2 separate regions of the Homo sapiens genome follow, and region 1 is linked to region 2. Evidence: fine-mapped expression QTL. Tissue or cell type: whole blood. Region 2 holds a variant in brackets; the other region holds the start of a gene. All regions are shown on one strand. Distances are between the middles of the regions.

What was found. PIP is the estimated chance that this variant, and not a neighbour inherited with it, causes the effect.
Region 1: it holds the start of ANKRD46, and the variant in region 2 is fine-mapped to the expression of ANKRD46 in whole blood (TOPMed, PIP 0.93).

Annotation. Positions count from the first base shown.
Region 1 is chr8:100,556,990-100,561,989 of GRCh38, forward strand. ANKRD46 (ankyrin repeat domain 46) reads right to left here and starts at 2,770. Exons shown (of 5, transcript NM_001270377.2): 1 at 2,722-2,770. RefSeq lists enhancers at 2,672-2,966, 2,934-3,073 and a silencer at 2,764-2,933.
Region 2 is chr8:100,521,351-100,528,533 of GRCh38, forward strand. ANKRD46 (ankyrin repeat domain 46) reads right to left here. Exons shown (of 5, transcript NM_001270377.2): 4 at 6,495-6,653; 5 at 1-1,421. The coding sequence ends at 1,205. Among named protein-coding and RNA genes, the nearest start is that of ANKRD46, 35 kb to the right of the region's middle. The variant T/C (reference allele first, on the strand shown) is at 3,402.

The sequences.
Region 1 (5,000 bases), 35 kb after region 2:
TTTGGCTTTCCTGGGCCACAGTGGAATAACTGTCTTGGGGCACACATATAACGATAGCTGATGAGCTTAAAAAAAAATACAATCAATCTCATAATGTTTTAAGTAAGTTTACAAATTTGGGTTGCACAAGCTTGCATTAGTGACTTCCCAAATTTCTATTTCCAGTTGGACCTTTCTCTTCAACTCCCGTCTCTATAACCCCACTTGAACAGGCATCTCAAACCTGACTAAAACTGGCTCCACCTACCTTCACACTCAGTCTTCTCCATCTCAGTACACTGTTTAACTAAAGCCTTCCAATAGCTCAGGCCAAAGGCCACAGGGTCGTGCTTCACCCTTTCTCTCATAAGCACATCCAAACCATAAGCAAATCCTATCAGCAATACTCAGAATACGACGGCTTCTTACTGCCTCTCTTACTACCCACCTGGTCTAAGCCACCATTCTCTCTGGCTTCAATTACTGCATCAACCTAACAGGTCTCCCTGCTTCCATCCTTGCCCTTACAGTCAACACTGAACACAGCAGCCAGAGTGATCCTTTAAAAACCTTAAGCCAGATCCCCTCATTCCTCTGCTCAAAACCCTCCAAACACCTCCCTTCTCACTCAGAGTAAAAGCAAAAGTCCTTACCTGGGCCCATTAGCTCTCTGACCTTGTCTCACCCTCCTTCCCTCCAGGTGCTCAAATCTACTGGCCTCCTTGCTGTTCCTCTCTTGCTGTCCCTCTAACAAGACTGAAGGGTTCTGGGCTTTTGCCCTTGCTTGGTATGCTCTTTCCCTAGACAGCTGCATGGCGGTCCCCAACGCCTTCAGTTTTGCTTGAGTCTTTTCCATGGCACCAGTCCTTATTTTAAAACTGCACCTGTTCCTTCCTTGGTGCTTCCTATCCCCCTTTGCTACTTTATTTTTATTCCTAGTAACTGTTACCATCTGACTCCAGATACGTTAACTTTCACAAATCCCGCTTATCGTCCCCAACCCCACCTTCCTCCAGTGACATGTTAGCTCCTGGAAGACAAGGACTTCATTTTGTTCACTCTCACATCCCCCAGTGCTTAGAACAGAGCCTGGCCATAGAAGGCACTCAATATACGCTTGCTATATGAATGCCGAATATGCAAATTCTTAAATCTATAATAGGTAAGGCTAAGAAGTTTGGGACTATAAAGCCCAACTTATTTCCACAATGGGAAATACAATTTCCCTTTTGATAAAGAACTGTGAGAATCCTTTGTTTTCCATAGTAACACAATTTATATAACATGCCAAAAATTCCTTATCACTTCACATCCTCTCTCCAGTGCCTTTCCTGTATTCTGTAAAATATTAACTTACTATCATCAAAAAATCTTTGATTTCCCTCTGGTACTGCTACCATAATAATGCAAAGGCAAAGTGAACTCACTAAAAAATGGTATGGAAACATAAATAATGAAGAAATGTAATAAAGTGTGTTAACAACCAAACAAATTCATCTCTATTTCAAATCAAATTGTACTGGCACAGTGAGAACCCCAGTCCAAGTTTAACTTTATTATCACTATAGTCCTTAATGAGCTAACAGTTTTCTTACTAAACTCCTTTTAAACTAAAAAGGAGTTCATGTAGGACTCCTGCATATAACCATGAAAACTAAGCCTGAGAGAAATCAGTTCAGGCTACAAATCTAATTGATAAAACTCTTAGACAGCGCTACATGTTTGGCTAGATAACAGACGCAGGGATACTGAAGTAAGGGAGATGAGACCAAATCTCGCTCAGCCTTTGCTAGCTTTCTGACCTTGGAGAAGTCAGACTCTCGGTGCCTCAGTTTCCTTATCTGTATAATGGAAATGGTACCTGATAGGGTTGCTTCAAGGATTAAAGGTACCAGGTATTTAAAGCAATGGCACCGTGTCTGACATAAAATAAGCACTGAAAATAGCTATTACTAGAACATAAAAATAATCCCCACACCACTCATATTACAGCTCTTTAAGAGGCTCCTAGGTACCACCGTCATTTTTTAAAGATTGAGAAGCGCTACTATTCAATGGCATATTTTTACCTTATTATGTTCTGTAGCCAATTCCGAATACCGTGGAACGTTACAAAAAACAGATGTTATTTTCTTGAGGTACTGTTGGGAAAACCTCAGAGAGAACGATCTGCTTTTTAGCACTGCAAGCCAATTAAGGGAGGAAGTTTGCGATTACCCGAGCCCTAAGTGGAAGGTGTGCAAATCCTTCCTTTTAACCCGGGCACCCCGGAGCCATGTGCCATTCTGGAGAGCTCACTCACACCCCAACAGCTTGTCCCGGCGCCTGAACTGTGCGCTCCTGCAAGCACACGCCGCGAAAGCACCGTCTCGCCCCGGCCGAGCAGCTGGACCTGCGGCGTGGCTTCCGCGCTCCACCCCCCGATTAACCGCGAGCCAGGGCTGCCCGCGCTGCCCAGGGGTTCCCCGGACCACAGCCCTAACCCGCAAGCGCAAACGAGAACCCTCGCAGGCCTCTGCCCGGCCCTCGTGAACACACAGACCGCGAAGAAGCCATCACGGACCCGCGGTCGCTTCCTCGGCCCGGCTCCCTCCAGTCGCCGCGGAAGGTGTGGGAAGCCCGGGCACCCTCGCCCCTCAGGGCCCCGGCCAGGCCTACTGGACCTCCAGTGCTACAGGGACGGTGCAGGAGATATCAAGTGGCTCTAGCCCAGGCGCTGCCCACAGGCCCCGGGCCAAGTACCTGCGACTCGAACGAGCAGCAGCGACAGCGGCAGCTTCAAGGAGGCGGTGACGGGCGGAGGGGAGGGGCCAGACAGGGGTAGTCGGAGTCCCCGCTGGGCCAGAGCGGTCTCGCGCTGCAGCCCCCGGCGCGCCCCCTGCAGGTGGGCGGTCCTCACGGTGGCTCGGGCTGCTCTGAGTCAGAGACTCCGGGAAAGCCTGCTCTGAATTAGGGAAAGCATCAAAACTGTGGCTTCAGAAGAGAAAGACAGCCTAGAAGAGGTTTATCCGATCTGAGTCCGGGAGCATTTTGCACTTTTCACGTCCTATTCTAAATTCACATCCCATCCCCTTAGCTAAATGGGGGCTTCAAAGGCAAGGGCAGTTTCATTAGGTGCTATAAGCATCAATTAATAGTTGCTGGCCTCTAGGTAGGTCTTCTATAGACCCGAAATTGACATATTAGGAATAGCCACTAATGATTGGCTGCACTATTTCTAAAATATAACCCTGCATTTTTACTTTTTTCAAAAGCAGTTTGAATCTTTTTTTTTTTTTTTTTTTTTAGACGGAGTCTCACTCTGTCGCCCAGGCTGGAGTGCAGTTGCTCAACCTCGGCTCACTGCAAACTCCAACTCCGCCTTCCGGGTTCAAGCGATTCGCAGTTTGAATCCTTCCATCCTACTTTGTAGGGTTCCTTGACTTATTGCAACATGTACAGCCAAGACTAACTAAAAGTGTGGTGGGACATTCATATGCTGGAAACATTCTTTCATGCAAAACTAGTTTTTTCTTTTTTTCATTTTACCAACTCCAGTCCTACAGCCAAGACAACTCTCACTGCACAGTGACCGTCCTCTGAATTCTAGCACCCTCATCCAACCAAGCCACGCTCTATGGCAAACTTGTCCAACCCCTGGCCCACACCTGCAGGCTGCATGCAGCCAAGACAGTTTAGAATGCAGCCCAACACAAATTAATAAACTCTCTTAAAACATTATGAGTTTTTTTTTTTTTGCAATTTTTTTTTAGCTCATCAACAATTGCTGGTGTTAGTGTATTTTATGTGTGGCCCAAGACAATTCTTCTTCCAATGTGGCCCAGGGAAGCCAAAAGATTGGACACCCCTGCTCTAGGGTATCTCATGGTTCATTCATTCAAGGACCACCTACACCATCTAATAATTTGTTCTTGAAAGTGTCATGTAAAGGTTTAGGACTATTGTCATATTAGAGGAAATCACTATTACATTTCTTTCATGTAAGAATTATAAGATCTGGCCATGCACGGTGGCTCACACCTGTAATCCCAGCACTTTGGGATGCTGGGGTGGACAGATCACTTGAGGTCAGGAGTTCGAGACCAGCCGGACCAACATGGTGAAACCTTGGCTCTACAAAAATACAAAAATTAGCCAGGCACGGTGTTGCACACCTGTAATCCCAGCTACTCAGGAGGCTGAGGCACAAGAATCCTTGAACCCCAAAAGGCGGAGGTCACAATGAGCCGAGATCTCACCACTGCACTCCAGCCTGGGTGACAGAACAAGACTCCATCTCAAAAAAAAAAAAGTTATAAGATCTTAGGGCATTTCACATTTTATTGTGCTATGACTAATCAGCAATATTACTTGTTAAATTGATGACATTTATTAATCAGTTTGTTATTGATGTCCTCCTTCTGGTTGTGTATTGAGTTTATAATATCTTCACTGATGCCTATAAACTATGACAAATTAGCAAGGAAATTAAAGCTTTTCCCAATGTATTAATAAGATTTACTCTTCATTAGTTGACTCATCCAACAATCTGAGAGCCTCTCCATTACTTCTATTCAAATTTATCTCTTCCTCTTCATGAATTACTGCTTTTGATTGATATGAAAAAATGTAGGGATGGTGAAGACAGCTTTTTTCTCTGATGAGATTAAAGTGAACTGCATGCTGCACATATTCTATGGCTCCTTCATGTTACCACACCTGGGCACTTTGACACAGTGGCTGTTAGGAGCTGATATGGTTTGGCTGTGTCCCTGCCCAAAATCTCATCTTGAATTATAATAATACCCATATGTCAAGGGCAGGACCAGGTGAAGATAATTGAATCATGGGGGCAGTTTCCCCTATGCTGTTCTCATGAGAGCGCGTGAGTTCTCATGAGATCTGATGGTTTTATAAGGGGCTTCTCCTTTTGCTCAGCACTCATTCTGTCTCCTACCACCCTGTCAAGAAGTGCCTTCTGCCATGATTGTAAGTTTCCTAAGGCTGCCCCAGCCATGCAGAATTGTGATTCAACTGTGAGT
Region 2 (7,183 bases):
TAATTATCAAGCCTTCATATTCTTTTTTAACCACTCAAGAACATAATTCATACATTACAGAATCATTAACAAAAGAGGCCTTCAAACATACTGCTGAAAGCTGCAATATAGTTTGAGGGCCAGATTTCAATTTACATAATATTACCATTCATAAAGAGTTTATGACACCCAGTACGATACTGTCCAGCACTGTTAACTCAGAAATGCTCCATCCATTCTTGCCATCAGAGAATTACAGATATGGATGGGATTGTTAAAAGTCTAACAGGGCCTCCAAATAGGATTGCACATGAAATAATTATGAACTATGATAAAACTGTGACAACACAGCTAGCTTATAGAACTGAGTTTTTCACTATAATAGCACTACAGAATTATGACAGTTAAATATCAGAATTATTTTTCCCTGCTAACTATTCAGTAGAAAAAGGATTTTCTGACTGTAATTCTGATGAACTGTTATCTTTGATGACTAGGATACTCGGGAAAATTGGAAAGTGAACAAAATGAACTCATTTATTTTTCACAGATATTAACAAGCAAAGCAGTTTACAAAAAGATCAAAAATTATCCTAAAAACAAATAAATATAAGATCAAATCAATTATCTTTGAACAAAATATAGCTCATTTTCAAAAGTTTTGTTTGGTTTGTGACTAGACTTAAAAATACTAAAATAAGCCAAATAGATGCTAACAATACTAATTTGCACACAAGATTTGAAAAAAGTACTTCAAGTTTTATCTCTTATCCCTAGAGAAAGTAAATAAAAAGTGGCTCTTGCAAAAATAAATGAAAACAAAACCACCAACAAAAACTAATCATATAAGATACTGTTTTTCTTTTTGAATACTTCAATTGGTCCTATATTAGGATAAGGTTTTGATAGCAAGGACTTCCTAGCTTCTTCCTTTATCTTCCATTCTCTAGTCACTTCCGTGTTTTTATCAAACAAGGCTACGTGTAGGCTTTCCTACAAAGTCAGGTTGAGTCAGAGGTAGCGTTAGGATGCAATATACTTGATCATAGTATGTAGTTAGTTCAAATGAACACATCATTATCTAAAAGGATTACAATAATTAAAAATGCAAAAAGAACATGTACTGCCCTCACTGCTTTGCGCTAAGAAAAATTCTGAGAAACTGAGAACAAACATTGGAAGCCAGGAAACAGGCAATTAATTGCCTCATCTTCCATGAGCTCCTTTAATGCACCAGTTCAGGCTGGTTTTCCACGAAGGGTAGCACCCCACTCACATAATAAGCAATGCCAAGAGACAGCAAAGCAATGACGAAGATCAACAGCAATACTCTCCAGAAGCCCAGATCCTCCACAAACTCCTGCCACGTGGTTCGGAAGCTGGAGAGGACTCCTTCACCTTGCTGCAGGTTGGGATTGAGGAGTGAATGGCTTTCCATGGCACTGTGGAAGAAGAAAGAGCAAAAAGGGCATTAAAAAAACACAGCAATTCCAAAAACATAAAACCACAGGGCTACTATTTAGAAAAGACCAAATACACACACACACACACACACACACACACACACACACACACATATATATATATACACACTCTTACATGCTTACGTATCTGAACAATATATACTAAACTGTAAATTGCTAAATGGTAATGAGTATGTTTCTCTTGGTTTAGAATTTAGTAAACTCAAGTTAAAAATTCTATTTAAAAGGTCCTGGCTGGGCGTGGTAGCTCATGCCTGTAATCCCGACACTTTTGCAGGCCAAGGAGGGAGGATCACTTGAGCCCAGGAGTTCGGGACCAGCCTGGGTAACATAGCGAGACACCATCTCTATTTTTTTTTAAGGTGTCCTGAGCAGAAGTCTTGAAATAGGTTATGAGTTGTCTCCATCAAGATATTAAACCACAACACATTCTTGTTATGTTAAATTTAGAAGATTCAAAGTGCAGACTCATAATTTAAGAATGTGTTAATACGAATAAGCAGACATGCAGGTGATGACACCTGAAGAGGACAGTCATCTACAAGTCAAGCAGAGAGGCCTTAGAAGAAACCAACTTTGTGACACCTTGATCTCAGACTTCTAGGCCCTAGAACTGAGAAAGTAAATGTCTGTTGGGGGGAGGGGGGAAGATGAGTAAATCTAAAAAGTCACTTATACAGTGTGTGTGAATCTTGAAGTTAAAAGGGAATTTTTATTAATTTAGTTCAATAATCTGACCAATGAAGGAATTCCTTCTTTAATTGTAATTCTCTAATAATGGAAGGTTACTCCTCAGCCTGTTGTACATGTGGACTCGTCTAGTCATCAGAAATTCTTTTTTTTTTTTGGAGACAGAATCTCACTCTGCCGCCCAGGCTGGAATACAGTGATGCGATCTCAGCTCACTGAAACCTCCACCTCCCCAGCTCAAGCAATCCTCCTGCCTCAGCCCCCCAGGTAGCTGGGACTACAGGTGCATGCCACCATGGCTGGCTAATTTTTGTATTTTTGGTAGAGACAGGGTTTCGCCATGTTGCCCAGGCTGGTCTTGAACTCCTGAGTTTAGGTGATCCACCTGCCTTGACCTCCCAAAGTGCTGGGATTACAGGCATGAGCCACCACAGCTGGCCTAGTCATTAGGAATTCTTAATAGTTTCTTCCTATTGGTGTTAGTTCTATCTTGTACAGTAAGACAGAATATGTTCATTTCTCTTCTGCATAAAGGCTAGTCTAGTTGAAAATAAGGTAGTGCAAATACCATAAAAACACTGATTCTGGTTTTCAGAACTTTATCAATGAGAAATACGACTACCACAAAGAGAAACTGCATCTGACTTTGGTACTTGGAAGCACTAAGGGAAGAGCACTCATGGTTATATCACAACATACAGGCCCAATAAGAGGGTATCATTTAGATTAAAGCCACCATAACCATGATCATAGGAATCAACTATCTACTGGTTATCAAAGTTCATTACTATCCTTCCTAACTCCCATAAAACAGTATCTTAGAGTCTCATTCATTATGAACTATGAATAAACATGCAAAACTGACATTTTTTAACCTACAACTTTATTTTACTTCTTGATACCATCAAACAAAAGTCCTTCAGCCTTTACCAACATTAGAGGTCTTCTCTGATCATGGGAAACTGACTTCCTAATGGGCCAGTCTGCTTAACACCCAAACTTTTTTTTTTTTAATAATTAAAACATGTTTATTCTCTGAATAAGAGATGATGTTTTCAGTGGGAATCTACAACACCACAGTAATTTTGGAACACTTGACAGCAAGTTTAAAAATAAGATTAGAACTTTGAGAAGGCCTAAAAGAGTAAAACCACAAATAGATAACACAGTTCTGCAGAGGCTTAGTTTGACCTATGTAAAATTTATTGATTACGAGTTGACATGCCCTTATACATGTTAGGTATAAAA[T/C]GAAAATTCCATGAGCATTCTCATTGTTCTTCAGAGCTCATGAAGCTCTGCCAATCGGGATATTCTATAAAGACTTTATCCAATGAAATGCTTTCTACTGTCCAGGGAATATCTGATTCTAACATAATGGGGTGTGTGTATAATCTTTTTTTAAAAACGTGATATCTACACTGTCTTTGGGGGGTGTGTTTGCATGTATCTTTTTTAAAAAATGTGATAGCTATACTGTTTTTGTTATCCCATACCTACAAAGTAAAAAGGAATTAAACTTAGAGTTATATGGAGGAGTGGGGAAATATTTTTCATTAACTTGATTTATAGTCCCTTATAAGGCCTGCAGAAGTTGTGCTGTCTTGGGGGAATCCTAAGAGAAATGGAAAATATTATAGTAAATACATTTAAAACCCTGCTTTATCTTCTGCTCTAGAAAAAGCCATTACACAATTATGCCATAATGCCATGTGCTAGCCAATCTCTTTAAACTTTTTCATCTACATTTATTGAGACATAATTCACATCCCATAATATTTACCTTTTGAAACTGTACAATTCAGTGGCTTTTCATATATTCCCCAAATTGTACAACCATCTCTTCTAATTCCAGTACACTTTCAGCACCTCTATAAGAAACTCTGTACCTATTAGCAGTCACTCCCATTGCCCCTTCTCCCAGCTTCTAGTCTACTTTCTCATCTACTTTCTGTCTCTATGGATTTGCTTATTCTGGACATTTCACATAAACAGAATCATGTAATATGTGGCCTTTTGTGCCTGGCTTCTCCAATGTAGCATGTTTTCAAAATTTATCCATGCTGTAGCATGTATCAGTATAATATAATAATATTAGTAATATTCCATTGGATGAACAGATGATGTTTATTCCTTCATCAGCTGATGGATATCTGGGTGGTATCAATGTTTTGGCTATTATGAATAATGCTGCTATGAACATTCATATATAAGTTTTGTGTGGACATATGTTTCAATTTTCTTTGGTATATTCCTAGAAGTGGCACTGCTGGTCAGATGGTAACTCTACGTGTAGCTTTTTGAAGGACTGCCAGACTTTTCCAAAGAAGCTGCTCTACTTTCCATTCCCATCAGCAGTGTATGAGGGTTCCAATTTCTCCACATCCTCCAGAGCACTTGTTATTATCTATCTTTTTAATTGCAGCTATCCTAGTGGGTGTGAAGTGGCATTTCACTATGGTCCTCATTTGCATTTTCCTAATGACATTACCTTTCAACTTTCTGATTTAAGCTTCAACCACTGAATTTCTACCATGACACTGAGGGGTAGGAGTAAGATAGGAAAACTAGGTAATAAAAGTGTTAATAACTCAATTTTTGAAAAACGAGCTTTATACAGTGTTACAATTAATACAAACTCTCATGCTGCAGTGAAATGGCAGGTATGTGAAGGAAGCAGGAGTACTTCCACTGCTCATCCAATGGAATATTATTTTGTACTTATCACTTCTTAGTAAGTAATCACAACTGAGGCAAACTAATGCTAAAAGTATATTTCTAATAAAAGGGTGCCAAGAAACTGGCTATTAACAAAATAAAGATCCTAAAAATATACCAAACAAGAACACATTCTTGGTTGTTTTTCATGGTAAAGAAGCTTAAAGTACTTAATGTTATTTCATAAAAAGATAAAAATAAATTTCAAGTTATCTTAGAGGAAAAAATCTTTAACAAATAATAGTTAACTCAATATTGTTAAAGTGCTTATGCCATTCTGTCAATCCAAAGTACAGAGGAGAGAAAAACAAGGGCTTGCAAATACATCTCTGACTTCTTGATTATCTATTTGTCAGCTTTCAGTGATCACTCAAGAGGAGTATGCACTGTTCCAGAAGTAAAGCTCTTGGATTTCTTTAGGACTGTATTAAAGTGCTTGAAAGTATCTGAACAAAATAGACCTAAGCTTGAGAGTGGAATTAATGGTCCCCAAAGAGCACATCATCTGGCACACGAGAGGAGGAAAGCAAAAATGGGTACAAAGGAATCAAATGAAGGGTAAGCTATGAAAAACAGAGAGGATTTCATTTAGAACTCACAGAAACAATGATCCCAATGGTCTAAGTGGATTATGTGATTCTAAATCCAAGTCCTAGTCCATCAGCTACTAGGTAAACAGCTGATGTGGGCCCTTGCTTATTCTATTTACAACCTACCGAGAATACTGGGAAGAGGCTATGGAAGCTCAGCATCCTTTTTCCTTCACACGTATAATGTGGAAGGCTGAAACTGCATGGTGGTCAACCAGATAATATGCTACTAGAACTAAGTCTGGCCTATTAACTTTACCTGTTGAGCCCAGTGACATCAGGAGAAAAGATGGTGCGCCACCTTTTTGGAGCTCTCTGAACTGCATTCTCCATTGCTTCTAGATGAGAAATGATGAGCTATTCAAGACCCTGTCAGTTACCACATCTTAGCTTCGATTACTCACAGGAATCCAAATTTCATTAGCTCCAACTCATATGAAAGTCACTTTCACTTTCACATTACTGAACTGTGCATGTGTTAAATACTATCTTGCTTTCCCTCTCTTGTTTTCTTGTTTCTCAGCATTCCACTTCCCTACCCTTGAAACTACCTTTCAGTCTTTTCTAAAATTGCCCAAGTTCTTGGCTTTACTTATACTTCTCTTTTTTTTGAAATTCCATTCTTTTTGTGACCTGTACTTAAAATCATCAAGCTCCGGCTTCCTCCCCTCAGATTCATTTGTTACTATTTCTCCTTTGTACTGTCAATACAGCAGGTGGCTAACAGAACATTATGCGCACATGACATGTAGTACTTTCTGTTAATAGCTTCTCAATTGTAATCTGCAGTCATAAGGTCCTATATAAAGTTCAAGTTGCACTTAAAAGCAAATGAATATTAAAGTTCACAAAGTTAACCATAAATCCACATACTTAAAGTGACTTTCCCCTTAAAAAATCGTATTATCTTGCTGGGTGTGGCTACATGTGCCTATAGTCCCAGCTAGTCAGGAGGCTGAGGCAGGAAGAATGCTTGAGCCCAGGAGTTCAAGGAATGAGTAATACAGTGAGAAAAAAAAAGTTGTATCTCCAGTACCTTTCACTCTCAGCTGTTTGCATGGTCTCCAGTTTCGAGTGGGTTCCTCTGTTAAATCCTTTCACCTCCTGTTCTTCCAAAGATTCCAGCAATCGGATGACATCTTTATTTACTCCTCTGCGCTTTGCCAGAACTAAAGGGGTAGCACCTTGATGATTGCTAAAAAAAAAAAAAAAAAAAAAAGTTTATAAAAATAAAGAAGCCATCATAGCAGTTATACTACATTGTCAGTTCCATTTTTAGTACCCACTTATATAGATCTCAGTGAAGAAAGAATGGGCCCAATTAGGGCCTACCCTAGGGCTGTGGGGAACTAAAGGAGTATTTGGCTCACTACAACTCTTCCACCATGAGCCTTGACCATCTGGCTGCAATCAGATGTTGACTGATGGGATTTTTGCACAGTTCATCACAGAGGCCGTTATCCTGTTAACCAAACACGTCCCCCACCTCCAGACCCCATCCTCACACTGAATGTCTCCTCAACAGCAGATTATGGTAGAAGTAATAGCCGTGTGCCTCTATTTTTTTCTGAATTGTACTATAGAAAGTGTTTATGAAGAACAAATCACCAAGGGGAAAAAAAGGATGGGTCCAGTTTAACTCAAAAGTAAAACCCAGAGCTGAGCCAAACATCCAGTGTAGCTGAATTTTGAATTAACCCTTGTTTTTCTTTTTTTTTTTTTTTT